7 linked regions of the Homo sapiens genome follow. The protein of the gene in region 1 purifies or fractionates together with the protein of each later gene. This does not show direct contact. Each region holds a gene or a part of one and is shown on either strand. Other genes may lie near its edges. The genes, in order: POLR1E, IFT81, RPRD1A, HDX, RPAP2, CRCP and CCDC138.

Region 1 (4,177 bases):
AAGCGGTCATCCAGCCCAACCTCTTCATTTTAGAAATTAAAAAACAGAAGGCCCACAGATGAAATTACTTGCCCCAGGTCAGTTCACCAGGTAGTGGCAGAGACAGGATTAGAAAACAAGTCCTTGGCTCTTTCCAGAAAATAATTTTGCTTTCTTGGTGAAAGACCTAAAAGCAGGCATAAACATGAGGTATGTGGTACTTACCGATGCTCTCCAATCATCTACAAAGTACTCAAATAAGGGCAGTATAACTTAGTACACAACAGTACAAGCTCTGGAGTGGCCTTGCCTGTTATCTCAGCCATCACCCCTGATAAGGTCATCTAACCTCTGTGCCAGTTTCATCACTGGTAAAAAAAGAACAACAGTACTTACTCCAGAAGGTTGGTATATGCATGGAAAGTGCTTAGAACAGTGACTAGCATATAGTAAGGACTTAAATGTTATCTCTGTGTGTGTGCTACCTAGAATAAACTCATATTTACAAACTTCTTACATATAACAACAAAAATATGTTTAATCAACACGTTAAATTACAATTTTCCTTGCCTCCCTGGATTTTACAAGAACAGTTGGAAGATGATTTAAATATAGTTATATATGTTTGCAAAGCAGGGGGACACCTAGGAAATTCACAGATGGGTGTCCGGACTCAAGAGACCTTTAAAATTACGTGTAAAATTTGGCTAGGCACGGTGGCTCACACCTGTAATACTAGCACTTTGAGAGACCAAGGTGGGTGAATCACTTGAGGCCACGAGTTTGAGACCAGCCTGGCCAACATGGTGAAACCCCATCTCTACTAAAAATACAAAAATTAGCCGAGTGTGGTAGCGCACACCTATAACCCCAGCTACTCAAGAGGCTGAGGCAGGAAAATCGCTAGAACCCGGGAGGCAGAGTCTTCTGTGAGCCCAGATTGCACCACTACACTCCAGCCTGGGTGACAAAGCGAGACTGGGTCTCAAAAAAAAAAAAAAATTATGTATAAAATCCCATATTAAAAAAAATCCCATATATATGTATTTGTGTATCATATATGTTTCTCAGAAGTAGGTCCAGGTCCTTAGCAGATTCTCAAAAGGGATGGAAGCACTGCTTTGAGAGAATAAAACTGGAACTAATGCCTCTGAGGTATCAGGCAGATTCACAATGCTCCCAATGTTTCTTTCTTGTCTATCGCCCTATCCTGCCATGGTTCCCAGTATTTAAGGGCATCACTAAGGATTCAAGTTCTGAGATTTAAGGAACAGAAGCCCCTTGAGTGTGACCCTTTTATTTATTATTTTGGAAGATCTCACTCTAGCCCTGAGCATTCTAAGATGACAAAGCAGAGAAACAATGTAAATTCTTCCACTGGATTAGGGAAAAAAAATAGATCTTCCTCAAATTAGTGTAGAGACTTGTCCTCAACGTGAAAGTTACTATACAACTTAATAAGCAATTTCCTTTGTCTACCAGAAATTCTAAAACCTCTTTACCCCAACTATAACAGTTAAGAATTAAGAAAGAACCCTTTCGGCCAGAACTGCCATCTTGCAGTAATTCATCAAAATGACAAACACAAAGGGAAAGAGGAGAGGCACCCAATATATGTTCTCTAGACCTTTTAGAAAACATGGAGTTGTTCCTTTGGCCACATATATGTGAATCTATAAGAAAGGTGATATCGTAGACATCAAGGGAATGGGTACTGTTCAAAAAGGAATGCCCCTCAAGTGTTACCATGGCTAAACTGGAAGCGTCTACAGTTTAGCATGCTGCTGGCATTGTTGTAAACAAACAAGGGCAAGATTCTTGCCAAGAGAATTAGTGTGCGTATTGAGCACATTAAGCACTCTAAGAGCCGAGAAAGCTTCATGAAACGGGTGAAGAAAGATGATTAGAAAAAGACAGAAGCAAAAGAGAAAGGTACCTGGGTTCAACTGAAGCGCCAGCCTGCTCCACCCAGAGAAGCACACTTGGTGAGAACCAATGGGAAGCAGCCTGAGCTGCTGGAACCTATTCCCTATGAATTCATGGCGTGACAGGTGTTTAAAAAATGAAAGACCTCTGGACTGTAAAAATGTTTCTCTTCATTGAGTAGAAGTGTGGTGTTCTCTCCCCCAAAGAAATATTTAAGGCAAATTTTAATTATGTCCTAGTTCATTATGTAATGTCTTTACTCTTCAAATTTAATGTATTTCTTGCTGAAAGACGTGAGGTAGCTTATTGTGCAACAAACTCCTCGATTGTTTAGAAAATGGCCAGGTATTACGTATGAAATATTTGTACTGGTTTGAAGATAGTCCCTTGAAATGATCAAGGAAGAAATAAAGTAATTTACAAAAATAAAAAATAAAAATAAAAAGAATGAAGGAAGTTCTTTTATGGAAAAGATTTTATATCAGACATGTCCTCTAATATTCTGCTCTGATCATTGCTCAGATTGCTTTTATGAACCTCTGACCTCAAGTCTCTAAACACTATGGGGACAGGATCTGTGTCTGTCTTGCTTACTGCCACATCCACAGCCCCAGCTTGGTGCCTGGTACATTAGGTTATCAATAAGTGTGTGCTGAATAAAAAACTCTAGGCCGGGCGCAGTGGCTAGCGCCTGTAATCCTAGCACTTTGGGAGGCCGAGGCAGGTGGATCACCTGAGGTCAAGAGTTTGAGACCAGCCTGGCCAACATGGTAAAACGCTGTCTCTATTAAAAATACAAAAATTAGCCGGGTGTGGTGATGTGCACCTGTAATCCCAGCTACTCGGGAGGCTGAGGTAGGAGAATCACTTGAACCCGGGAGGTGGAAGTTGCAGCGAGCCAATATCACACCACTGCACTCTAGCCTGGGTGACAGAGTGGGACTGCATCTCAAAAAAAACAAAAAACAAAAAACAGTGTGTATATAAAAAACCATTTTCTCAACACAGACAAAGCAGAAAAAACAGAATAAATAAATTAAAATAACTATAAAATGTGTTTTATAAATCTAAAACTCAAGCCAACTCATCCAGCAAACCCAAACTATGCATTATTTCTGTCAGCTTTCATGACTGGGACCTACCTGAAAATAGTGGCTGCATGTTGAACAATTCAGCATCATATACTTCCATTTGGCCAGAGGTCTTGTTCAAAATTCCCACAAAGTGCCTGAATAAAGAAGAAATAATACAAATAACAATGGATTATTCAAAAGCATTATTTGTACAGCTTTCTTTTTTTTTTTTTTGAGACAGAGTCTTGCTGTCACCCAGGCTGGAGTGGAGTGGCATGATCTCGGCTCACTGCAACCTCCACCTCCCGGGTTCAAGCAATTCTCCTGTCTCAGCCTGCTGAGTAGCTGGGATTACAGGCGCACGCCACCATCCCCGGCTAATTTTTGCATTTTTAATAAAGATGGGTTTCACCATGTTGTCCAGGCTGGTCTCGAACTCCTGACCTCAGGTGATCTGACCCTATCAGCCTCCCAAAGTGCTGGGATTACAGGCGTGAGCCACTGCACCTGGCCCTGTTTCCTGTTCAAAAGTTCTCAACCTTCTCTCTGCCCACACACCTGAGGAATGCATCATCTACTCATGGGTAACAATAATCTCCCCTACCCCTACCCCACAGCAATTCTCTGCATAGAGAGGGAATAGGAAAGGATAGGATGGGATGGGAGGATATGAGGTGGTTCTGGGAAAAAAAAAAAAGCTACTAGGTGATTCTGATAGTTGATCACATTTGGGCTCACTGCGGTAGTGTAATGGAAAACTCTTTTGGGGTGTACGAACCTAGAATTACACTACAATTTATGGCACAACAGTTTTATGGAGGCAAAATCAAGTAAACGGGGAGGAGACCAATTGGAACTAGGGCATCTCTGAGAGGGGAGAGTGCAGGGTTAATAGTTCTCAGCACCTATACACCCATCTGACCTCTCCTCTATTGGAGTATGGTCCACCGGGGCTCAGAAAGGGCCTAGTTTGTAGTTCATTGTTGGGTACCATCACAGGGCCCTGTCTGCATCATGCCAGCCCCCGAGAGTGATACAGTTCAGGCTGGACAATCTTCACTGTACAGAGGGGGAGGCTGGGGGTCAGTGATGCGCAGAGTTACCCAGCCACTCAGTCAATCAGCAGCACAGCTGGATGGGAATCCCAGGCTCCTCTTTCCCAGTCCAGAGCCTTCAACACTACCAAGTTCTTTACCTGT
Region 2 (4,177 bases), on another chromosome or scaffold:
TTTTAAAAGAGATTAAGAAAAACAGTAAGCCACTGGGTTATTACATTCTAAAAAAAAACTACATGTTTCTTAATGGACATATGTTTACATTTACAGATAGTAAACTTAGTTTCCTGTCTCATAAAACTCAGAAGACGCCAGTGATGTCTAAACTATGGAAAAGAATAAAAGCCTCTTTTTCATATGAAAAAACATTCAAACTAAATCTACCTTAACATTATTTTCTATGAAAACTTAATAAAGAATGGCTCTTCTGAAAACAAAATGCTATACAAATCAGTTTCAAAAAAGAAATACATTATGAGATTAGGCTTATAGCTAGTGGTATCAAGTAAAACCCCAAACGATGACACAAGAATTCACAGTATTAGCCGGTCCTCCCCACCCTCCTGAATTACCTGACCAATGGAAGTTTGGCTTTGTTGTTTCAGAAAGCACTGTTTCTTACATTCCATTAATTGTTCCAAATCACGCCACATTTTTGCTTGTTTCATATTTGGACCATGACTTTCTCGTATAACTTTTTGTTTTTCCCGAAGTTTCTATCATTAAAAAAAAACAAGAATAATTAAATCTCAGTTACAGGGGTTTATTTCTATTGCTATAGTCGGAGGAATATGGTATGTTTTCTACAGTAGATAAAAAATAGTTAGCTAAACCACATACTCTATAATGTACCAAAACTAAGATTATAAAAGTTAACTAAGGCCAGACGAGGTGGCTCATGTCTGTAAACCTAGCACTTTGGGAGGCTGAGGTGGGCAGATCATGAGGTCAGGAGATCAAGAGCTCTACTAAATCCAACACTAAGTCAAACTGTTTGCCTTTCTAGTTCTCCAAAAAAATACAAAAAAAAATTAGCCAGGCATGGGGGCACGCGCCTGTAGTCCCAGCTACTCGGGAGGCTGAGGCAGGAGAATCGCTTGAACCTGGGAGGCGGAGTTTGCAGTGAGCCGAGATCACGCCACTACACTCCAGCTTGGCAACAGAGCAAGACTCTGTCTCAAAGAAAATACAAAAAACAAAAACAAACAAACAAAAAAAACTACACAAAACTATAAAAGGAAGTGAGAGAAAAAGATAGTTAGGAAAGTGGAACAGTATCATGGTGTGAAAAGAAGAATGTAGAGTTTGGAAGTCAGAAGACTTCGGTTTTAATCTGGTTTTGTCTCCTCTAGTGGTAAGCAAGGCACTTAATTTCTTGGGACTTCAGTTTTCTCAATTATCAATTAAGGTTAATAGACCAGGCATGGTGGCTCACGACTGTAATCCCAGCACTTTGGGAGGCTGAGGCGGATAGATCACTTGAGGTTAGGAGTTCGAGACCAGCCTGATCAACAAGGTGAAACCCTATCTCTACTAAAAATACAAAAATTAGCAGGGCATGGTGGCGTGTGCCTGTAGTCCCTGCTACTCAGGAGGCTGAGACAGGAGAATGGCTTCAATCTGGGAGGTGGAGGTTGCAATGAGCTGCAGTCGTGCCACTATGAGACTCTAAGTCAAACTGCTTGCCTTTCTAGTTCTCCAACAAAAACCAGCTAGGAGGATATACATGACATATTACTCAAGAATGTACAGTTATAGCTCATATAGCTTTAAAATAATTCATTTATTAGCCTAAGCCTGAGAAATGTCCACATTTTGTTTTAGAATTTCCATTTACATAAAAATTTCTCAAGAAACCAACAGGATCAGTATATTCTATATACTAAAACCTAATACTTATTTATTCAAGATATAATTATGAAGCACCTGTTATATGTCAGGTATGCTTGGAGTTTCAAGTGGAAAACAGGACTCATGCTATATAGGTGGGCAGATCACCTGAAGTCAGGAGTTCGAGACCAGCCTGGCCAACATGGTGAAATCCCATCTGTACTAAAAATACAAAAATATGAAATACAAAAATTAGCCGGACATGGTGGCATGTGCCTGTAATTCCAGCTACTCAGAAGGCTGAGGCAGGAGAATTGCTTGAACCTGGAAGGCAGAGTGAGCCAAGATTGTGCCACTGCACTCCAGCCTGGGCAACAGAGTGAGATTCCGTCTCTGGAAAAAAAAAAAAATTAAGGTGAATAATAGGAGGCTGGGGGCTGGGCACGGTGACTCACACCTGTAATTCCAGCACTTTGGGAGGCCAAGGCAGGAGGATTGCTTGAGCTGGGGAGTTCAAGGCCTGCCTGGGTAACATGATACTCTGTCTCTACAAAAATAAAAATTAAAAAATTATCTGGGCATGGTGGTGGCACATGCCTGTAGTCCTAGCTAGTTGGGAGGCTGAGGTGGAAGGGTCACTTGAGCCAGGAATTTGAGGCTGCAGTGAGCTATGCTCTCACCACTGCACTCCAGCCTGGGCAACAGAGCGAGATCCTGTCTCTTAAAAACAAAACAAAACAAAACAAAACAAAACAACCAAACCAAGGCTAATAATAGGGGAAAATAAAAGTATTTACTTGGTAAGATTATGTTTTCAAGTGACATAATAGATATTGAAATACTTGATAAATTATCATGTATTATATATATCCTTGTTATTAAATGTTATATTCTATCTTATCCTGAAACAGTGTATACTCTATTTATGTCCAAATAAATCAAATTGTATGCACATATACTTCAGAGAGCAGGCCCAGTGATTACGAAAATAGTACACTATTAAATAAGCCAAAATCCTTCTTAGAATTGTTTTTGTTACTAACATCTTAGATGGTCCACCTGCCAAAACTGTTTTACTCATTGACTCTAAAATTTTAAACAGGAATAAAAGAATCTTCAATAAATTACAAAAATATACTTTAGTTCTATATTATGGCAAATTGAGGAAGGGTGACTGAAAGCAAGAGTAGACACAAAGTCAGAGACAATAAGTGACACGGTAGGAAAAAAGAGAGAGAGAATCCAGCCTGGGCAACAAAGTGAGACGCCCCTGTCTCTACAAAAAAAAAATTTTTTTTTAATTAGTTGTGTATGGTGGCACATGCCTGTGGTCCCAGCTACTCAGGAGGCCGAGGCAAGAAGATCACTTGAGCCTGGGAACTCAAGGCTGCAGTGAGCTGTGACCATGCCATTACACTCCAGCCCAGGTGACGAGTGAGACTGTCTCAAAAAAAAAAAAAAAAAAAAAAAAAAAAAGAAGAAGAAGAAGAAGAGAAGAAAAAGAAAAGAAAGGAATTCATTCATAATCCCATGTGCTAGAGACAACTACAGTTGACATTTTGGTAGAGAAGGTGAAAGTGCACATAGAACGAAATGCAGTGTGTTGGAAATATCTGTACCGACACCGAGTGTGAGAAAATCACCAAGAGGGACAGAAAAGCAAGCAGAGACACAGAGGCAGAGTGCAAAGGAACAACCTCATCCTTTCCTCTTTTAACATACGGTCAATATACTAGTTGATCTGAGACACAAATGAGAATGCTGGTAGTTGGTACTTGCCTAAATAAGAGGATTAACTAAGCTGAGGACCAGAGTCAAACCACCCATTAAATACTGCCCACCCAGCTATGCATAATGAAAGCAAAGTTAACAGCAAACAGGAATAGAAAACAACACAGAATTTTAAAAATATAAATATAACCAGTAAATTTTTTGATGCAATACCTGGCATATTAATACATCTATTTAAGTTTATGTTACAAATAATGTATCTTACAACAAATATTTTATCCTTATAAACTAAAAAGTATTTAGAAAGGCCATTAAGGCAGACCAAGAATTTTAAGACTTCTGCACACGATTTTAAATTAAGGCACTACTTAACCTGTAACTTTTCTTATATCATTGGAATAATTTCCTTGTCAAAAAATCCTAACAACCTATAAAAGTTATTTAAAGAACCAAAGACAGGATGTGGGCACTGTCTGTGTCAGAAATATTAAATTTAATTTGCTTCATAACCATGTGTGTTTGAAACCTTTAACTTTATGAATACAACTGATGTTAGTATGTATATATTTTAAATCTTATTATCATTTACATTTGTTTACAGTTGCAATGTACAAAAATTACTAATCACTGATTTCATTGTTCTTTAAAGGAGGAGATGGTGGTATAGAAGGGGGGAAACTCAGTTGGCCTGAGGAGGTCTATGGATGTCCAGTTTATATTGGCTTAGAGGGCTTAGACTATCATCACTTTGAAAGGCTGGGTTTGTTCTGTTTGCCTTGAAAATTTAGAT
Region 3 (4,177 bases), on another chromosome or scaffold:
AAGCGGGTTGTTGCTGCTGGTTTGGGTGGCCTGCTTTTATTCTCTTATCTGGCCCCAGCCACGTCCTGCTGATTGGTCCATTTTACAGAGAGCTGATTGGTCCGTTTTGACAGAGTGCTGATTGGTGCGTTTTATGATCCTTTAGCGAGACACACAGCACTGATTGTTGCATTTACAAACTTTTAGCTAGACACAGAGTGCTGATTGGTGTGTTTACAAACCTCTAGCTAGGCACAGAGCACTGATTGGTGCGTTTACAAACCTTGAGCTAGACACAGAGTGGTGATTGGTGCGTTTACAATCCTTTAGCTAGACAGAAAAGTTTTCCAAGTCCCCACCTGACCCAGAAGCCCAGCTGGCTTCACCTCTCAATGGCACTCGCCGCGGGACTTTGCGGCACCTAGCTTGGGCACTCTAGCAGCCCAGAGGGAGCTCGTCCCCCATCAAGCCCAGCAGGCACCCACCCGGAACCGCGCGTAGCCCAGGCTCCTGCCGGCGCCTCTCTCTCTACACCTCCCTGAGAGCAGATGGAGCCGGCTCCGGCCTCTGCCAGCCGCAGAGAGGGGCTCCCACAGTGCAGCAGCGGGCTGAAGGGCTCCTTGAGCACGGCCAGAGCAGACGCCGAGGCCGAGGAGGCGCCGAGAGCGAGCAAGGGCTGCTAGGACGTTGTCACCTCTCAATAGGAGAAAGCTATCTAATATTTAATGTATTTAAGAAAATGGTGCAAATGTGGTAAAATTGTAAGATGTGCTTTTAGCAAGGTTTGTGATGTTTCCATATGTTTAAGTGTTTCATAAGTGGAAAACGTTAAAGCATATAAAAAGATGCTTTAGGAGGAGGGTGGTAGTGATGATAGTGTTGATAGTAACGGTGATGCTGATGAACATACCGCTGCCGCTTTAATCCTCATATTAGCCTGGGCTACTCTGCCAAGGGTTTCCTTTTCTTGACAGATGACTGCTTTTGCAGGGTGTAGCCTTTGTGTCCTTCCCCTTTCCTGCAGTTTTGCTCATCAACTTCAGGATTCTCATCTCCTGTAGTTTAATGATAATGGCAATCAGTTACTGAGTACCAGACATTCTTTTAGTTATTTTACCATATCTTGAATCACATTATTTCTGCAGAATAATTATGAAAGGAATCGATCAATCTTGAAAGTATATTACAACAAACTAAAGAAAATTAGTTGAACATTTTGTGTTAAGCTAGGCATTCTTTAGTTTCTCAAAGTGTGTAAAGACAAAAATGTGAGAGTGGGAGAAGCTACTGTTTAAAATAAAAGAATGAGCTGGGTACTGTGGCTCATGCCTGTAATCCCAGCACTTTAGGAGGCTGAGGGAAGTGGATTGCCAGAGCTCAGGTGTTCGAGACCAGCGTGGTCAACATGGCAAAACCCTGTCTCTACAGAAAATACCAAAATTAGCTGGGCATGATGGCGCAGGCCTAAGGAGGCTGAGGTTGGGGGGTCACTTGAGCCCAAGAGGTTTAGGCTGCAGTGAGCCAAGTGCGCCACTGCACTCCAACCTGGGCGACAGAGCAAGGCCCTGTCTCAGAAAACAAACAAACAAAAAAATATAAGAATGAATAAGTAAAATTATATATGTTAGATAATGGTAGCCATTCAGTTATGAAGGTTTCCCTTCTTTTCCTACCTTCCTTATCTTTGTCTCCTTTAAAGAAAGAGTTTCTGTTTGGAGGGATAAACTTCAAGGCCTTTGTGAAGACCAAAATGGCATACAATTTTCCTGATAAATGCAGTAAAGTGTAACCAAAAATGTAAGTGACCATTTTGTTACTTCTTTATTAAGATGTAATTCACATACCACACCTTTTATCCATTCAAAGTATACTATTCAGTGGTTTTTGATATGTTTATAGAATTGTAAAGCTACCACCAGTTTTAGAACATTTTTATTACCCAGAAAGAAACTCCATGCCATTTAGCTGTTGTCCCCAGTCCCCCATCTCTCCCAACCCTAGGCAACTGCTAATTTACTTTGCCTCTATAGATTGGACTATTTTTACCATTTCATATGAATAGAATTATATAGTATGTGGTCTTTTGTGTGTTTTCCATCCATGCTATAACATGGATGAGCCTGGAAAACATGTTAATTAAAAGAAGCCAGTTGCAAAAGACCACTTACTGTCCTTCAGTCTTTTCTATGGCCGAATAGAATATTGTATGAATTTAGCCATTCATCAGTTGATAGACGTTCGAGTTGTTTCCGCTTTTTGGCTATTATAAATAATGCTGCTGTGAGCACTCCTGTACAAGCTTTTTTTTTTTGTGGATATGTTTTCATCTTGGATACTTACTGAGGAGTGGAATTTCTGGGTCATATGGGAATCCTATGTTCAACCTTTTGAGGATCCACCAGGCTATTTTCCACAGTGGGTACATGTTTTTTTTTTTTTTTTTTTTTTTTTGAGACGGAGTCTCGCTCTGTCGCCCAGGCCGGACTGCGGACTGCAGTGGCGCAATCTCGGCTCACTGCAAGCTCCGCTTCCCGGGTTCACGCCATTCTCCTGCCTCAGCCTCCGGAGTAGCTGGGACTACAGGCGCCCGCCACCGCGCCCGGCTAATTTTTTGTATTTTTAGTAGAGACGGGGTTTCACCTTGTTAGCCAGGATGGTCTCGATCTCCTGACCTCATGATCCACCCGCCTCGGCCTCCCAAAGTGCTGGGATTACAGGCGTGAGCCACCGCGCCCGGCCATGTTTTTAAAATACATTCCTACAAGCAGTGTATGAGGGTCCAGTTTTTCTACATCCTTGCTAATATTTGTTATCTTTTTGATTACAGCTGTCCTAGTGGGTATGAAGTGGTATCTCATGATTTTGATATGCATTTCCCAGATGACTAATGACACTGAGCCTATTTTCATGTACTTATTGGCCATTTGGATGTTGTCTGGAGAAATGTCTATTCTGCCTATTTTAAAATTTGTCTTTTTATGATTGAGTTGTAAGTGTTCCCAATGTATTCTAGGTACAAGTATTGTATTAGATTCATACCACAAATATTTTCTTCCATTCAGTGGGTTGTCTTTTTACTTTCTTAATAGTGTCCTTTGAAGGTGACTGTTTTAAACTGTAAATGTCTCAGTCAATACTAGGCTAAATTTTAAAACTTAATATACATCATTAATTTATATTCATTTCTGTAGAAATATTGACCATGAACATACCTGAACTTAGAAACCAACACTAACATTTGGGCTCTTTTCTACACACACTCGCTGAAAGATCTCTATAAGAGCTGTACAAAACAAGATAGATAGGAGGAAATTCTTTGTAGTTGGTGAAGGTCACTGCCTTCCCTAGTCTAGTGATTGTATCCTTTGTACCAGCCTCTTTTATGTTATATTGGTGTCTTAACAAAACTGTAAGTGCCTCAACCCCTTAAAGTATGTTTACTCACCCTGTATTTATTGATTGTGTATTACAATGGTAAAGAAAACAAAGGGAAAACAGTTTATCCCTGCCCTCAGAATTTATAGTCTTGTGGTAAGGGCAACCAATAAACAAAAAATTTTAAATATAAATTTCGTGTTTAGTTCTTTGAAGGAGGAAATCTTTAGTTAGAGGGAAATCATCTCTGCAAGGTGACGTTTAATAAAAGACCTCTTTGAACAAGTTGCGGGGGTAGGGGGGCTTGGGCCTGCAGCCACTGGGAATATGTGAAAGTGCTGAGGTGATACATAGCTTTGGATGCAAAGAGCCAAACCTGGAAATGGTCAGCCTTTGAATGCCTGTTAACTTTGTTTCCTAAATTTTTTTTTTTTTATGAGACAGTGTCTCACTATGTTGCCGAGGCTGCTCTTGAACTCTTGGGCTCAGGTGATCTTCCTGCCTCAGCCTCCCGAGTAGCTGGGACTACAGGTGCACACTACCATGCTGGGCTTATTTTTTCTAGGGTTGGCAACAATTAAAATAATACATTATTTAAGGTTTAGATTTTCCTCCTATTTGTAATCATTTGTTGAAATCATCACTTTTTCAATAAGCTATGTTAGATATCTTTCAGGGAACTAATTACCATTTTATATTGTATTATAGGTTGGGGGGTTACATATTGGTTGTGAAGTAGATAGTGGGCTCCTTCAGGTTGTTTACCTATTTCAATTTTTAGCTCCCCAGCATACTGCGTTTGATGAAAGTTTTTAAATATTCG
Region 4 (4,177 bases), on another chromosome or scaffold:
GGTATAGATAGTAATTTAACCATGCAACACAATTGCACACTGCCAAGTCACAAATATATGACACTGTGGGCTTAGGGAGAAACTGACATTTTTTCTTCTATGGGTCTTGGTAATACCATCTGGTACTCCAGAAAGGAAGAACTACAAAGAACAGTCTACAGTGTGTTGCCATCTGGTACCTACTAATAATAGAAAACTGGGTAGCTTGCCCATTTTAGGTGTGTACTCATAGAATAGTATTCATGGAATTCAGAAGACTGTGATTTACAACCAAAGTAGTATAACTCTTTTTGAATACTATCCTTGGCTGATGGCTCTGTACAGGCCTCATATGGAAATGAGGTAAATTTTGTGGCAAAGCTGAATGACTAAATTTTTAAAAAATCTCAGCAGCTTACCTTGACTTCCTGTTTCATAACATGTAAGAACTAAAAAAGAATTATAAAGATGGTGATAAATTTAAAATATTTGTGTAACACTTCATCTAACCCAGGTATACAAATTTACTACTGGAATGTCAATCGTATCAATACTTGTCATTTGTAGTAATGAAGAATCCCCATCAAGACTAATTTTGACAACATTTTGTTTCTGTACACTTCGTAATTTATTTGACGTTATGTTGGTTAAATTACCTTTCCATTGTGCTTCCCCACCCCCACACAAATATTTGGGTTAGATAATAGAAGAACACCAGCAATTTACAATTACATACCTGTAATCATTTAATTTTCAGTCATTAGTTTAAGTCAAATTTTCATAGGGGTTAAAAACTAAATCAGAGAACTCATTAAATAATGAGTTAAATAATTTTTTAAAGTTTTGTTTTAAATGTTCAGTCCACTTTCCTGAGAAAAAGTGTAAGTGGATGATAGGAAAAGGAGAGAAGAAGAAAGAAGATGTAATGGCTACAAAAACAAGACTAATCAAGCTGTAGCAACTTGATAAGCAATGCTGAAATGTCTTTAGTTATTTTGTCTCTGGTTAGAAATTAGACATAATGAATTTCAGGGTTAAACTGCTGAAACTTAAATATAATTTTTTTCCAGAGTTCCATCAGTTAAAAAAATACTCTCTCAAACAATGCTTTTAAATTTCACCTACATTTTTGTTGCACTGTAGCCATTATATCTTGTACATTCTTCACAGAATACGTCCGTTTCAACAATGTGTTTTCCCAACTAAAGAATACCAGGGCAACAGAATGCAGTTATCTTGAAATGCACACCTGTTACGAAGCCAAAAGACTGTATCATATATTCCCTCCAACTGAAATCACAAACTTTCTGAGACATTTTTCTCTGACAAAGAAGATACACTGAATGAGGTATCATCAGGCTCCAGTGAGGCATGATTGAAATCCATTTCCTCTAATTCAGGAGGTAAATCTGACAGCAGTGCCTGAATAAAAAAAATAATATTTTTGGATTAGTATGTGGATAGATTGTTTTCCAATTTATATTAATAGTTGTAGTCCTCCCATGGTGAATTATCCTTATGGATTTAAAGAATAATTTATATTTCAGGATCTTAGACAATGCCTTACCTAAAAGAAAAATTCTTCATACATTATTCAGAAGGTAACAAAATTCTAGATGTTGAAAGTGTGAATTCTGTAGAGTAGAACCTGTACAAAGGGGATATTAGGAGGGAAATGAGCAACTCTTCTGAACCAAGTGCTTTGAAGTGTTTGAGGTTAGTGATTTTCATACTAGTTTTGAGTGTGCATTGATCACTGTTTAAGGGATTTAAAATTGCGTTCTTTGTTAAAATATTCATGCCAGTTATGCTGTCCTTTGTAGAAGACTGCATTTAACAAAAGACTATTTTGTTCTTCAGTGGGAGAAAGAACTTAGTAGTTAGGAAAAACCTCCAGCTATTTTACTTTAGACTAAATTTTAACAACTTGAAAAGACCAAGTAATTTTATTTTTTCTTTCCTAAGGCTATGTTCATACCTACAGATGGCCAAGCACCCACCAGGGCACAGCTGAATCAGTGGATCTATCTGTAGTAATGATGTATCTGGAGGGCTACTCATTTCTCTGCTTGAGTAATAAGGATAATCCAATAATGATGAAATAAGCTTTGTCATGGTCTAATTGTTTTATCTGAAGTTGTAGAACATGCACCCATTCTAAAGAAATAAATGATTAATCAAGTTTTACGCAGCTGACAATGCTAATGTTCACTTGACCATGAGGAACTTTGAACTTAATGATTGATTTGCTGCTTCCAATACTAAGAATAATGTAGCATATCTGGCAATTTTTAGACAGTATTACTTGTAATGTGGGCTTTGGGTGCAGTGGTAAATAAAGACCAAGGGAACAGGAAGAAATGAAAGCTTGTCACTAGCCAATTAAGGAACAGAAAGGGCATGTTGGAGAATATATGAAATCCACTGTTGAAATAAGACAGTATGCACTCATTCTCTTTATTAAAATAAGTGGCAGCTGCAAATCCTATACTTCCTGCCTTGTAGCACAGGGGCAAGATCAAAACATTCTCATTTTTATCAGGCTATGTAAGGGAAGACTAACCCCTATCTGGCAGACTAGCTGTTATTATTTATTTTATAAAATTGAATTTCTCATTAATTTATTGCTGGAACTGAGAGTATATACACAGTAAACTAACTTAAAGGTAATGCCTGCTTTCTAAGTGGCTAGATTGCAGTAATAGGACACGGAGCCATTTTCTCCTAGAAAAGTGTTTTACCACTAACCCAGTCCCAGTGCAATGGGGTCTTTTCTGACATTGGCTGATCAGTCTATATGACATACATCACTGGATTTAACTCGCTTTGCAATTCTGAAGATGCCATATTAAAGAGGAGAAAGTGTTCAAATTAACATTGACTGAACATGTTCTTAGAGTCAGAAAGTCAAGAGAATAAGATTTCATGATATTCTAATTTCTAATTTCTAGTGGGGAGATTACAAATCAAAGAAGCATTATTATTTATTTCTTTGTTACTGCATTATAAGTAGTTGAGTAAAATGAGTGCAGTAAAAAATATAAAAATTTTAATATCTGAGGCAGCATAGGGCACAACTAATACATGTGGTCCACTTTAAAATTCTTCTTTCAATATCTTACTAGATTTGCAACTGAAAAAAATCTTTGGATTATAACAATTGTTGGAACTGCCTTTTTCACAGATACTAACGTGAATACGATTAACTTTCTTTATTACAAATGTTTCATAAATGACAACTATCCTCAGGGTCTGACCTACGGTCATTTTTCCCAAGAGATTAAAGCATTTTCCATATGCTCAGATCTATAACACTTATTCTAGACCCTATGGTATGAATATCAAGTTCTGTAGTATTAATCATTCTTATCCCACTTGCAAAGTGGAGAAATTGAAGTTCAAGAAACGCAATTGATCTGGCTAGGAACACGCAGTGAATTATCAGGGGAAGCAAGACCATAGCAAATGACTAAGTATAATGCTGAAAATATTACTTTGATTTTAAAGTGGCTATTGATTTAAATAACAACAACAACAAAATCTTTGGGTAATCTAGTGTTTCAGTCAGAGAGTATCACATTTTGTAAACCCTGGACTACTTCAATGGTCCAAAATATTCTGTGGACCACACATCTGACTCAACTTACACAAATCAAGATTAATGGAAGAAAACTGAAGATCTTTTTTAAAATTAAAAACCAGTGACATGTGGTTGTCTTTTATTAGGTAGAATAAAAATTAACTCCTTCCAGAAATAAACCTATAAATATTTCATGATGTAAAGATCAGTAGTTTAAGCGATTACCTAGATAACTTTTTTGGACTACTATTCGTGTCTTCTATATTTTGTGACCATATTCTAAGATTCATTATACTCATTCTTAATTATACAAATTAGTAGTTTCTATTTGGTGCTGATTATACTGGCTATGAAGTTCACTACAATTTTTGAATCATGTTCTCTTTCAACCAACTTTTGTCCATATACTAATTTATTAGTCTTTAATCAGAGGGAAAGAAGAGGAAGAGAAAAATAAAAATGCACATTAATTACATTTGTTATTGGTCTTGGGAAAAGAACCAAACCAGGAATGAAGTTAGAATTAGAAAATAAAATGGGGTCTGTGTACTATTCCTAGATGTCAAGAGGCACAGAAACTTGCTAGTTACTTGGCCATATAACTCTCAATTCACAACC
Region 5 (4,177 bases), on another chromosome or scaffold:
CTTCAGAAGGCTGATCTGTATGGGCTGCATCAATGGGCTTCCTTGCTCTCTGGCTTTTATCTCAGTTTTGCCAATGAAGAATAAGAAACTGGACGGTGCAGAAGAGTCATTCCCACTTGGTCCACTACAAGCAGCACTTCCTTGGTACAAGACCTTGTGGTCCACTCCTACCTTTTTCCTTGAGGTCTAGGGGTGGTGAGGGCTCTCAAACTATGATTAGTGTATCATTCCTTTGGTTTCCTTCATTCTGACCACATTTTCACGCTTTGGAAAACAGTCCTATAATTAAACTTTCCTCAGATTACTTAATTTGTACCATGTGATTTATGATGAGACCATGACCAATTCATACGCTAATGTCACTCATTCTGAAAATATGTGCAAAAATTCTAAGGCAAATATTAGGAGGACCAAATCCAGTATTATATAAAAAGGCTATTATAGCTCAATCAAGTTGAGTTTATTATAAGAATGCAAAGTTGGTTTAATATTAAAAATAAATGTTAGGTCTGGGAAAAAATAGCAGATAGGAGGCAGGACTAACTTGCAGTTCCCACTTGGTCAGACAGAGCGGCATGTGGAGACTCCCATCATGAACTTTTGCTCCAAGAACTACCGCAGAAACATACCAGAAAAGGCAAGGAACTGTGAGTCAGCTTGCTTTCTCAGCTGGGAGGCCTGTAGCCTGGGGCAAGTTCTCAGCCCTGCTCATCAGCTGCCTGGAAATAAACTTGGTGCTGTTGTGGGGGCACGGTGGGAGTGAGTCTGGCCTTTTAGGCTGCAGGCTGTGTGGAAGCTGGGTGAGGCCTGTGGTTGCCAGCTTTCCCCCACTTCCCTAGTGACCTGTGTGATGCAGCAGAGTCAGCCATAATCCACCTGGGAACATAACTCCATTGGCCTGGGAATCACACAATGGTACCCCCACCTGATGGTCTTTCTCTACTGGCCCTGGTAGCCGAAGACAAAGGACTTAATCTCTTGGGAGCTCTATGGCCCTACCCACTGCCTGACCCCAGAGCAAGCTTGTATCCTCCCTATCCTACTGCAGCTGATGCACTCTTGAAAGCACCACCTCCTGGCTGAAGGCCAACCAACACAAAACCAGCGCACTTAAAAAAAATACAATTAAGGACCCTCACAGAGTCCACTTCACTCCCCTGTACCTCCACTGGAGCAGGTGCTGGTATCCACAGCTGAAGACGGATCACATCACAGGACCCTTTGCAGACACTCCCTAGTACCCGCCAGAAGCCTGGTAGCTCTGCTGGGTGGCTAGATCCACAAGAACAATAACAATCACTGCAGTTTGGCTCTCAGGAAGCCCCATCCCTAGGGGAAGGAGGAGAGCACCAAATCAAGGGAGCACCCTGTGGGACAAAAGAATCTAAACAGCAGCCCTTGAGTCCCAGATCTTCCTTCTCACAGTCTACCCAAATGAGAAGGAACCAGAAAAACAATTCTAGTAATATGACAAAACAAGGATCTTTAACAACCCAAAACATCATACTAGCTCACCAGCAATGGATCCAAACCAAGACAAAATCTCAGAATTGCCAGAAAAAGGATTCAGAAGGTCAATTATTAAGCTAATCAAGGAGGCACCAGAGAAAGGTGAGGCCCAACTTAAAGAAATCAAACAAATCATACAGGATATGAATGGAAAAATCTCCAGTGAAATAGATAGCATAAATAAAAAACTATCACAACTTTGGGAAATGAAGGACATACTTAGAGAAATGCAAATGCACTGGAAAGTCTCAGCAATAAAATTGAGCAAGTAGAAGAACTTCAGAGCTTCAAGACAAGGCTTTTGAATTAACCCAGTCCAACAAAGAAAAAAGAATTTAAAAAATGAACAAAGGCTCCAAGAAGTTTGGGATTATGTCAAACAAACAAACCTAAGAATAATTGGTGTTCCTGAGAAAGAAGAGAAATCTAAAAGTTTGGAAAACATATTTGAGGGAATAATCAAGGAAAACTTCTCCAGCCTTGCTAGAGACCTACACATCCAAATACAAGAAGCTCAAAGAACACCTGGGAAACTCATCATAAAAAGATCATTGCCCCGGCACATAGTCATCAGGTTATCGAAAGTCAAGATGAAGGAAAGAATCTTAAGAGCAGTGAGGCAAAAGCATCAGATAACTTATAAAGGAAAGCCTATCAGATTAACAGCAGATTTCTCAGCAGAAACCCTATAAGCTAGAAGACATTGGAGTCCTATCTTTAGCCTCCTTAAACAAAACAACTGTCAGCCAAGAATTTTGTATCCAGCGAAACTAAGGTTCATAAATGAAGGAAAGATAGTCTTTTTCAGACAAACAAATTCTGAGAGAATTCACCACTACCAAGTCAGCACTACAAGAACTGCTAAAGGAGCGATAAATCTTGAAACAAATCCTGGAAATAATACCAAAATAGAATCTCTTTAAAGCATAAATCTCACAGGACCTATAAAACAATAAGACAATGAAAAAAAAAAAGCTGTTCAGGCAACAAATAGCACGATGAATAGAATAGTACCTCACATCTCAATACTAACATTGAATGTAAATGGCCTAAATGCTCCACTTAAAAAATACAGAATGGCAAAATTAATACGAATTCACCAACCAAGTATCTGCTTTTCAAGGGACTCACCTGACACATAAGGATTCACATAAACTTAAGGTAAAGGGTGGAAAAACATATTCCATGCAAATGGACACCAAAAGTGAGAAGTAGCTATTCTTATATCAGACAAAACAAACTTTAAAGCAACAGCAGTTTAAAAAGACAAAGAGGGACATTATACAATGATAAAAGGACTAGTCCAATAGGAAAATATGACAATCCTAAATAAATATGCATCTAAACCTGGAGCTCCCAAATTTATAAAACAGTTACTACGAGACCTAGGAAATGAGATAGAAAGCAACACAATAATAGTGGGGGACTTCAGTACTCCACTGACAGCACTAGACAGGTCATCAAGACCTGTTCCTGAATGATCACTAGGTCAACAATGAAATCTAAGTAGAAATTAAAAAATTCCACTGTGGTCTGAGAGAATATTTGATATAATTTTGATTATACCCTAGAACAAATGGATTTAACAGATATTTACAGAACATTCTACCCAACAACAGCAGGATATACATTCTATTCATCAGCACATGGAACAGTCTCCGAGATAGACCATATGATAGGCCAGCTGAACTTTGTAACAATTCCAAATGAACAGGAAGTCTCCTGGCCAGAACTCAAGGGAGGGTGTGAATCTGGTGTGCAGACTCCACAGGCTGGGAGATGTGAAAGCCCTACTTGTTCTCACAGGTGAGAGGCTGGTAGCCTGGGGCAAGTTCTCAGCCCTTCCTGCCCACTGCCTGTAAACAAACTTGGTGCTGTTTGAAGGGACATGGTGGGAGTGAAACTGGTCTTTTGGGTTGCATGGGAGCTGGGTGAGGCCTGCCACCAGCTTTCCCCCACTTCCCTGACAACCTGCATGACACAGCAGAGGCAGCCATAATCTTCCTGGAATAGCTCCACTGACCTGGGAACCACACTCCCATCCCCCACAACAGCCACAGCAAGCCCTGCCCAAGGAGTCTTGAGTTCAGACGCACATAGCCCTGCCCCCATGACGGTCCTTCCCTACCCACTCCGGTAGCTGAAGACAAAGGGCATATATTCTTGGGAGTTCTACGGCCCTACCCACAGCCTGATCCTCCCTATACTACCACAACTGATGCTCTCTTGAAAGTGCCACCTTCTGGCAGGAGGCTAACCAGCACAAAAATAGTACATTAAACAACCAAAAGCAAGGATCCTCACAGAATCCATTTCACCCCCCTGCCATCTCCACCAGAGCAGGTGCTGGTATCCATGGCTGAGAGATCTGCAGACCTGACCTAAGAGATTATCCAAGTGGTCAATAAGCAAATAAAATAGTGCTGAATTTATTCATCATCACAGTAATGTATTATAATCATAAACCAATACTACCAGAATGGCTAAAACTAACTATATCAAGTACCAGGGAGGACATGGAATCAAGGAAACTCCCATATAGTAGTAGTGGAACTGTAAACCGGTACAACCACTTTGGAAAACTGTTTGGCATTATCTAGTATAGTTGCATATATGCATATACGATAACCCACCATTCCCAGTCCTAGATACTTCAGAAATACATACG
Region 6 (4,177 bases), on another chromosome or scaffold:
CGAGTAGCTGGGATTACAGGAATGTGCCATCACCCCTGGTTAATTTTGTATTTTTTTAGTAGAGATGGGGTTTTTCCATGTTGGTGAGGCTGGTCTCAAACTCCTGACCTCAGGTGATCCGCCTGCCTTGCCCTCCCAAAGTGCTGGGATTACAAGCATGAGTCACCGTGCCAGGCTAATTGTGTCCTTTTTAAAGGAACAAACAATTTGACTGTTGTGCAAATGAGGCTTACCTGGTCTGAATATGAAGCACCTGCCCTGGGCTGCTGTCTCAGGGCAGGAAAGTGGGGTGGTCAGAAAGGCAGCCAACACTGTTTCTGCTGCCACTGTCACTAAGCCTGGAGTGCCCGTTTTCAACTGCAGTGATCTGGTCCCTAACATTTAGCCTAAACAGTGAGCTGGTAAACAAAGCCCCTGCCAGCAGAGAAAAGGGGCTCTAGAGCTGTTGAAGGATTGGCCAGGCCGGTTCTTTTCTTATCTCTGTTGTTCTCGAGGAAATTCCTCTAAGGTGAGCCAAGGTCAGTGGCTCATTTTAACTTAGAGTAACTCTCTGGGGACTCTAACCAGACTTCCAACAGTGCTCTGGGCCCCTTAGTAAGTTCCCAGGGAAGCAGATGAAACTAATTAGGACATGGCCCACCAAAGGCGACACAAGCATTTTCCCCGCTGTGCACAGAGACCTCCCCACAACTGGGGCAAAGGCCGTGGAGGAAATCTTTCAAGCACAGAGGGGTCCGCGGTCACTGTCCCCACCTTCAGCTCTCTGCCCTGACAACCTCAGCCTGTTTTCACCATGTTTCTTCTCCCCAAGGCACAAATATTTCTTTTTAACTTATTTTTGTGATGTACCCAACTAACCACAAAGCCAGGCCTGCTGGGATGAGGATAAAAATCAAATAAACAATCCTCTCAACGTCCAGGAAATGGCTGCCAGGCCTTCTGACTTCATGAAACGCCGGGGCCAGCTGTGCTCTTCTATGCTGGGTCCTCTTCGTCCATTGCCACATTGCTGTTTGTATTCTTCTTCTGCTCAGCCTCTGGCTCTGCAGGCAGAATGCTGGTGACGGTGTGGAGAAGAGCTTCAATCTGCTCCTCCGTGAGCCGCTCTTCACTCTCTTCCACCATCTGCAGAAGGAAAGAAAATCCTCCAGGGTTACAAATGAAACTTACAGCCTTGGGCAGCCCTGCCCACTGTGCTCATGGTCTCAGCCCGGCCTCCTGGCACACAGACCTCACAGCCTGGGTCCTCGTGAGTCCTCTCCATCTTACAGACGGAAGGGTGGAGCCAAGTCACATCCTGGACTGAGCCAATGCGACTGATCAAAATGGGTCAGTAAAAACCAAGTTGTAGGATAGCATTTTTCTTTAAAGAAAAGGAAAACCCCCAGCCTGGGAAGCACAGAGGAACCCCATCTCTTAAAAACAAACAAAAAAAATCAACCAAGCATGGTGGTGTGTGCCAATAGTCCCAGCTACTTGGGGGGCTGAGGTGGGAGGATCACTTGAGCCCAGGAGGTCGAGCCAAGCACTCCAGCCTGGGTGACAGAGCAAGACTTTGTCTAAAAAAAAAAAAAAAAAAAGAAAAGAAAAAAAGGAAAAAGCTAAGTTATATAACCACACACACACACACACACACACACACACACACACACACACACAGAGAGAAGTGGTGAACAGGTTGCATATGCATCTCGAAGAAGTTAAATGGCACTTTATGTACTTTTATATTTCACAAGCACATCTGTAATTTTTTTTTTGGGGGGGCAGGACAGAGTCTTGCTCTGTCGCCAGGCTGGAGTGCAGTGGCACAATCTCGGCTCACTGCAACCTCCGCCTCTCAGGTTCAAGCAATTCTCCTGCCTCAGCCTCCCGAATAGCTGGGACTACAGGCACGAGCCACCACAGACAGTTAACTGTTCGTATTTTTCGTAGAGACGGGGTTTCACCATGTTGGCCAGGATGGTCTCAATCTCTTGAGCTTGTGATCCACCCACCTTGGCCTCCCAAAGTGCTGGGATTACAGGCGTGAGCCACTGTGCCAGGCACACATCTGTAATTTAATGAACTGTATCAGCAACACGGTTGATGATGCCCACTATGTGCCAAATGGTTTGGAGCCTTCTTCTAATCCTCACTCCCACTAGCAACAGCCCTGCAGGGAGGCCTCCCATGTGTCTGGAGCTGCATCTTGCACTTCCCATCCGGCATTTCCTTTCGTCCTCCCAACAATGCTGCTAAGGGGTAGAACTGGAATCCCCAGCCAGAACTGCCCAGTCTAAAACCCACAGTCCCCCACGTTGCACACCACACTGCCCATCAAAGGTCCACATAAAACCTGGTTTCTGATGTGGTCCCAGAAATCTGAATCTAGAGATGATACTCACAGCCTGAGCCAGTTTCCTTAGCTTCGCCCCTAATTCTAAACAGAATTAGGTCGTCAGCTGCCTTTTTAAAAGCAGCAGGCAGGCAGTCAAGTTGCTTAACCCTGTTTGCTTGGTGGCATCAACCATCAATCACAAACACCTTTCTCAGCTCAAGGTGGCCAGATTCTATTCCATGGCATTCCCCACAGCAATCTCTGAAATCCGGCAACTGGGACCACAGGGAGTTCCAGAAAGAAATCCTGGCAGACTGAAGTAAAACAAGATAATAAGACAGGCCTGCAATCCTGGAGAGGATCCCAGTCTGACCACCTCCCTTTACAGACAACAGCACAGTTCAGGAAGTCATGTGACACGCCCAAGGTCACACCACGAACTCCTGGCAAAACCCTGGTCTCTCCACTCACTTCAGCCCAAAAGTGTTTCTGCAACTAGATAATAATCCTGGTGTCCCAGGATGGGGGAGATCCTGAGTGAATCAATGGGGGCTACTCCCTATGATGCTGTGAAATAAAATGACCATTTTCTAAAGATTCCATGGCTCAGGAAAATGTAAATTCTCTTCTGAGAAAGAAACAATCTTCAACTCCCCCCCTTCACTCTTGTTGCCCAGGCTGGAGTGCAATGGCATGACCTTGGCTCCCTAGCAGCTGGGATTACAGGCATGCACCACCACACCCAGATAATTTTGTATTTTTAGTAAAGACAGAGTTTCTCCATGTTGGTTAGTCTGGTCTCGAACTCCTGACCTCAGGCGATCCACTCACCTCGGCCTCCCAAAGTGCTGGGATTACAGGAGTTAGCCACCGCGCCCGGCCAAAAACCCATTTTTAAAATCAGACATGGGGCCGGGTGCGGTGGCTCACGCCTGTAATCCCAGCACTTTGGGAGGCTGAGGTGGGCGGATCACAAGGTCAGGAGATCGAGACCATCCTGGCTAACACAGTGAAACCCCGTCTCTACTAAAAATACAAAAAATTAGCTGGGCGTGGCAGCGTGCGCCTGTAGTCCCAGCTACACGGGAGGCTGAGGCAGGAGAATGGTGTGAACCCAGGAGGCAGAGGTTGTAGTAAGCCAAGATCGTGCCACTGCACTCCAGCCTGGGTGACAGAGTAAGACCCACTCTCTTTGGGGAAAAAAAAGGTGGGGGTGAGGGATAATGTAGTCATTGTCATTTATCCTAGTGATCCAAGACGTGCTAGTAAGTTTTTTATTTCTGAAAGTTTCTTTTTTGTTTATATTTCATTTAGTTTAATGCAGCTTAGGGTTTCTTCCTGTGACTGGGAACCTTAGGTTGAAAAAAAAGGTCTTGACTGTAATTAAGGAGGATTGGATGTTGATAAAAGCTCCGGCCGTTAGTGAACTTAGCAAAATTCTTTTCTGCACATTATTTTCTCAAACGGAGATCATCTTTTCTCCAGGTTAAATAATCAAATCTTGGCTATTTCCCTCCTTTCCCTGCTTTATTCTTTGGGCGCAATCATCACTTACTGCAGTCTCAAACTCCTGGGCTCAAGCAATCCTCCTGCCTCAGCCTTCCAAGTAGCTGGGACTATAGCTATGTGCCACCATGTCCAGCTAATTATTTTTTATTATTTTTTGTAGAGATGGGGTTGCCCAGGCTGGTCTTGAACTCCTGGGCTCAAGTGATCCTCTCACATCACCCTCTCAAAGTGCTGGGGTTATAGACATGAATCACTGTGTCCGGCCTTTCACCTTTTCTTTCCAACACAGGAGAAACAGTCCAAATAAAGAAGTAAAGTTCAAAGCACCATCTCAAGGTTCTCAGATACCAA
Region 7 (4,177 bases), on another chromosome or scaffold:
AAATAGGACAAAGGGAATAGGAAGTCCAGAAATGAATCAAAATTGGCACTTCATATTATGTATTGAATTAATGACTTTGCTTCCCTGTGCAAGTCATTTTTTTAAGAACATAGAATCTTAAATCATATGATACAGATGATAGAATTAGTAGACAAGTCTTTACTGCAGTTATTATAACTATATCCCTGTGTTCAAGAAGGTAAAGGAAAACATGAGCCTGGTAAGGGGATACATGGAAGATACGGGATAAAAAGACTTCAATCAGATTTCTGCAAATGAAAAACCCAGTGCCTGAAATTTAAAAATACACTGGAGAGAATTAGACACTGCAGACAAACGACTAGTGAACTGGGATACATAGCAATAGAAACTGTCCAAAATGAATTACACAGAGAAAAAAAATCTACAAAAAAGAAAACAGAACATCAGTGAGTTTTGAGACAAAATCATATATTCTAATATTATGTACTTAGAGTCTATGAAGAGGGGAGACAAAAACTATTTCAAGACATAATGGCTCCAAATTTTTGAAATATGGTGAAAACTATAAACACACAAATCCAAGGAGCATGTCCAGCTGAGCTCATGGTCACTCCTATTCCCTTTTCCTTAGCCTCCTCTAGATACATGTGTGCCATCCCTTTCCTCCACACCCTGGCCACTGGATTTCAGGAATACTGCCTCCCATGGTGACTCTCCATGACCTTTTCAGTGGCTTCATCACCTCTCCCTAGACCACAGACAGGCCCTGACACGTCTCCCTGCCTTCACTCTCTAGTCTCCCTTCACACTTGTTGTGAACGATTCTTTCTCACAAGGTTCCTGCCTAACAGATACCCTTTAAAGCTGCAGGCTCCTCAGCCTGGTGGCCTCAAAAAAGAAAAAGAAAAAAAAATCTGACACTAATCACTGTGGAACAAGGAAGAGATACAAGAGTTCTCCCTTTCCTTATAGTCTGGCCTCTCCCAGCCTAGGCACAAGGGTTTCTTATGAGCCCAAACCTGTGGGGTTCCAGTGTTCATCTACTACCTGGGGCCAAGGTACATGCTGCTGCCATCAAGAAAGAAGCCTGAATGCTGATGAGTCTCAGGGAGAAGAGCACTTTCTGACTGCAGGTGTTCTCTCCAGTAGCTGCAGGCAGGTGGGGTGTGCCTGCACACAAGACCTGGGGCTAGGAGGGTTCAACAGGATGCATGGGCCAGTGAATACAAGTGTAAAAGGGGCCTTTGTCCTGGCCAAATCCCAGCACATGCCAGCACCTAGGAAGAAATGTCAGAGCCAGATGGTCCTCGGAACTACTGTCAGACACTGTCATGATACAGCTATTTATCCTTTATCGTTAAATATACTGAAAAAAATTCTGGGAGAACTAAACATTTAAACATAAGAAAAACTCTTAAATCCTAAGAGTAGACTTAACTCTAGTAAGAAGATGTTTCCTATTTATAAAATAGGAACATCAGTTTCAAATTTGATAAATTTAGTAGAAAATGAGAAAGTAGGCAAATGTGTTGGGTAATAGGCAGATGCATTGGATACTACACATAATATTAACTGCTTAATCCAGATATATATAGATCTATGAAGATAATACCTAGTTATATTGAATAGACTGTTCATATAAGAATCAGCATATATAATACTTGGCGAGTTTTTTTTGTTTTGTTTTGTTTTGTTTTTGGAGACAGAGTTTCACCCTGTCGCCCAGGCTGGAGTGCAGTGGCACGATCTTGGCTCACTGCAGCCTCTGCTTCCCAGGTTCAAGCGATTCTCCTGCCTCAGCCTCCTGAGTAGCTGGGATTACAGGCACGCACCACCACACCCTGCTAATTTTTTCTATCTTTAGTAGACACGGGGTTTCACCATGTTCGCCAGGCTGGTCTCGAACTCCTGACCTCATGATCTGCCCGCCTCAACCTCCCAAAGTGCTGGGATTACAGGCGTGAGCCACTGCGCCTGGCCAGTTGGTGAGTTTTGACACCACAGTGCTGTCTAGGGAAAACTCTTTAACTGTGTTTTTTCTCTACTCCCACATGACAATAATCATCCACACAGAAGAAGACTTCTGTGACAAAATGTGTGGAGGTTTTTCCCCACATACCAAGCAGCAGACACAAGCTGCTCCAATTCACTTCTGACACGATCCACCTGGAGATAGTGTCAGATCCCACAAGTTGGGCACTCAAGTCTCCAAGGCTGCCTCGTGCCACACCAGTTGCAAGTCCGGCCCTCTGGAACTTCTGACCAACTGGCTTCAAATTGGGGTTCCTACAACCCCCTCTTTGGGTTTAATTTGCTGGAGTAGCTCATAGAACTCAGCGAAACACTTAACCAGTTTATTATAAAGGATATTGCAAATGATGTAGATGAAGAGAGAGACAGAGCAAGGTATAGGGGAAGGGGCATGGAACTTCTGTCCCCTCCCTGGAGCACCACGCTCCAGAAATCTCCATATGTCCAGCCGTCTGGAAGCTCTCTGAACCCATTTCTCTGGGGTGTTTTGTTTTTTGTTGTTTGTTTGTTTGTTTTTGAGATGGAGTTTTGCTCTTGTTGCCCAGGCTGGAGTGCAATGGCGTGATCTTGGCTTGCTGCAACCTCTGCCTCCCAGGTTCAAGCAATTCTCCTGCCTCAGCCTCCCGAGTAGCTGGGCTTACAGGTGCCTGCCACCATGCCCAGCTAATTTTTGTACTTTTAGTAGAGATGGGGTTTCACCACATTGGCCAGGCTGGTGTTGAACTCCTGAATTCAGGTGATCCGCCCACCTCAGCCTCCCAAAAGTGCTGATATTACAGGCGTGAGCCACCGCGCCCGGCCTTTCTCTTGGGTTTTTATGGAGGCTTCCTGACATCACAATTCTGTCCACCAGGATATAGGGCTGGACTCTCTCTGGGGAGGATGTTAAGACCCACAATCAGAAAGTCCAGGAAAGATTAGAGTCCTGGCTTGGGCCAAGTGAAAGGAGGGCAGGAGAAGGTCAGAGACCTTCCCCTGAGGCCTAACACACCCAACATCATAACAAAGACTAATGAGACGAAAACCTATATATATATATCATAACACCACAGATACTAAGCTCTTTATACCTTATCTCTGAATACTATTATCCTCATATTAGTGATGAGGTTTACAAAGGTAGATAATTGTGCCAAAACGATACAATCTGCATTTGACAGAGCCTAATTTAGCCTCTATCAATTGCTGAAGCCTACCTTCTTAAGCCTATTTTATGACTACCTAAGAGCATGTACTTCCTGAGATAACCAAAGAAATAAACACCTACATAGCACTTACTATGTTATAGGCCGAGCACTTTATATATATTAACTCATTTAATCCTCACAACAGTTCATGAGATGTCAATATTATTATTGTAATTTTACAAATGAGGAAATTGAGGCATAAAAAAGTTTAGCTGCACACAATCAGTATGTGATGCTCAATCTCTGAAATAAAATTTAACTGTAAGATACAACTCTTCTTTATGGAAAGAAAGGAACACTTGTACACTGTTTGTGGGAGTGTAAATTAGTTCAGCCATTGTGGAAGACAGTGTGGCATTTCCTCAAAGACCTAAAGACAAATGCCATTCAACCCAACAATCCCATTACTGGGTATATACCCAAACTAATAGAAATTGTTCTATTATAAGGACACATGCATGTGTTGTGTTCATTGCAGCACTGTTCACAATAGCAAAGTCACGGAATCAACCCAAATGCCCATCGAAGATAACCTGGATAAAGAAAATGTGGTACATATACACTATGGAATACTATGCAGCCATTAAAAAGAATGAGATTATGTCCTTTGCAGGGACATGGATGGACTTGGAGGCCGTTATCCTTAACAGACTAATGCAGGAACAGAAAATCAAATAACACATGTTCTCATTTATAAGTGGGAGCTAAATGATGAGAACACATGGATACATAAGGGGAACAACACACACTGGGGCCTATCAGAGGGTGGGAGGAGGGACAGGATCAGGAAAAATAACTAATGGGTACTAGTCTTAATACCTGGGTGATGAAATAATCTGTACAACAAACTCCTATGACACAAGTGTACCTGTGTAACAAACCTGCACAGGTACCCCTGAACTAAAATAAAATAAAAAAACCCAACCATTACAGAAGTAAAATGAGCAAATATAATGTGTCACTGAGAGGATATAGGC

The links.
Region 2: the proteins of POLR1E (region 1) and IFT81 purify together in Homo sapiens (affinity purification with mass spectrometry; one large-scale study listed by BioGRID and IntAct). This does not show direct contact.
Region 3: the proteins of POLR1E (region 1) and RPRD1A purify together in Homo sapiens (affinity purification with mass spectrometry, with the first as the bait; one large-scale study listed by BioGRID). This does not show direct contact.
Region 4: the proteins of POLR1E (region 1) and HDX purify together in Homo sapiens (co-immunoprecipitation; one large-scale study listed by IntAct). This does not show direct contact.
Region 5: the proteins of POLR1E (region 1) and RPAP2 purify together in Homo sapiens (affinity purification with mass spectrometry, with the first as the bait; one large-scale study listed by BioGRID). This does not show direct contact.
Region 6: the proteins of POLR1E (region 1) and CRCP purify together in Homo sapiens (affinity purification with mass spectrometry, with the first as the bait; one large-scale study listed by BioGRID). This does not show direct contact.
Region 7: the proteins of POLR1E (region 1) and CCDC138 purify together in Homo sapiens (affinity purification with mass spectrometry; one large-scale study listed by BioGRID and IntAct). This does not show direct contact.

What each region holds. Positions count from the first base shown.
Region 1 is NC_000009.12:37,488,271-37,492,447, reverse strand, and holds part of POLR1E (DNA-directed RNA polymerase I subunit RPA49), read right to left. Parts: intron 3,134-4,177; coding exon 3,048-3,133; intron 167-3,047; coding exon of another isoform or gene 73-166; intron 1-72. UniProt on the Homo sapiens protein: Component of RNA polymerase I (Pol I), a DNA-dependent RNA polymerase which synthesizes ribosomal RNA precursors using the four ribonucleoside triphosphates as substrates.
Region 2 is NC_000012.12:110,214,409-110,218,585, reverse strand, and holds part of IFT81 (intraflagellar transport protein 81 homolog), read right to left. Parts: intron 543-4,177; coding exon 360-542; 3' UTR 1-359. UniProt on the Homo sapiens protein: Component of the intraflagellar transport (IFT) complex B: together with IFT74, forms a tubulin-binding module that specifically mediates transport of tubulin within the cilium. Binds tubulin via its CH (calponin-homology)-like region.
Region 3 is NC_000018.10:36,060,577-36,064,753, reverse strand, and holds part of RPRD1A (regulation of nuclear pre-mRNA domain-containing protein 1A), read left to right. Parts: intron 1-4,177. UniProt on the Homo sapiens protein: Interacts with phosphorylated C-terminal heptapeptide repeat domain (CTD) of the largest RNA polymerase II subunit POLR2A, and participates in dephosphorylation of the CTD by RPAP2.
Region 4 is NC_000023.11:84,320,614-84,324,790, forward strand, and holds part of HDX (highly divergent homeobox), read right to left. Parts: intron 1,402-4,177; coding exon 1,276-1,401; 3' UTR 1-1,275.
Region 5 is NC_000001.11:92,326,022-92,330,198, reverse strand, and holds part of RPAP2 (putative RNA polymerase II subunit B1 CTD phosphatase RPAP2), read right to left. Parts: intron 1-4,177.
Region 6 is NC_000007.14:66,149,156-66,153,332, reverse strand, and holds part of CRCP (DNA-directed RNA polymerase III subunit RPC9), read right to left. Parts: intron 1,126-4,177; coding exon 976-1,125; 3' UTR 1-975. UniProt on the Homo sapiens protein: DNA-dependent RNA polymerase catalyzes the transcription of DNA into RNA using the four ribonucleoside triphosphates as substrates.
Region 7 is NC_000002.12:108,848,789-108,852,965, forward strand, and holds part of CCDC138 (coiled-coil domain-containing protein 138), read left to right. Parts: intron 1-1,846; coding exon of another isoform or gene 1,847-1,902; exon of another isoform or gene 1,903-4,177.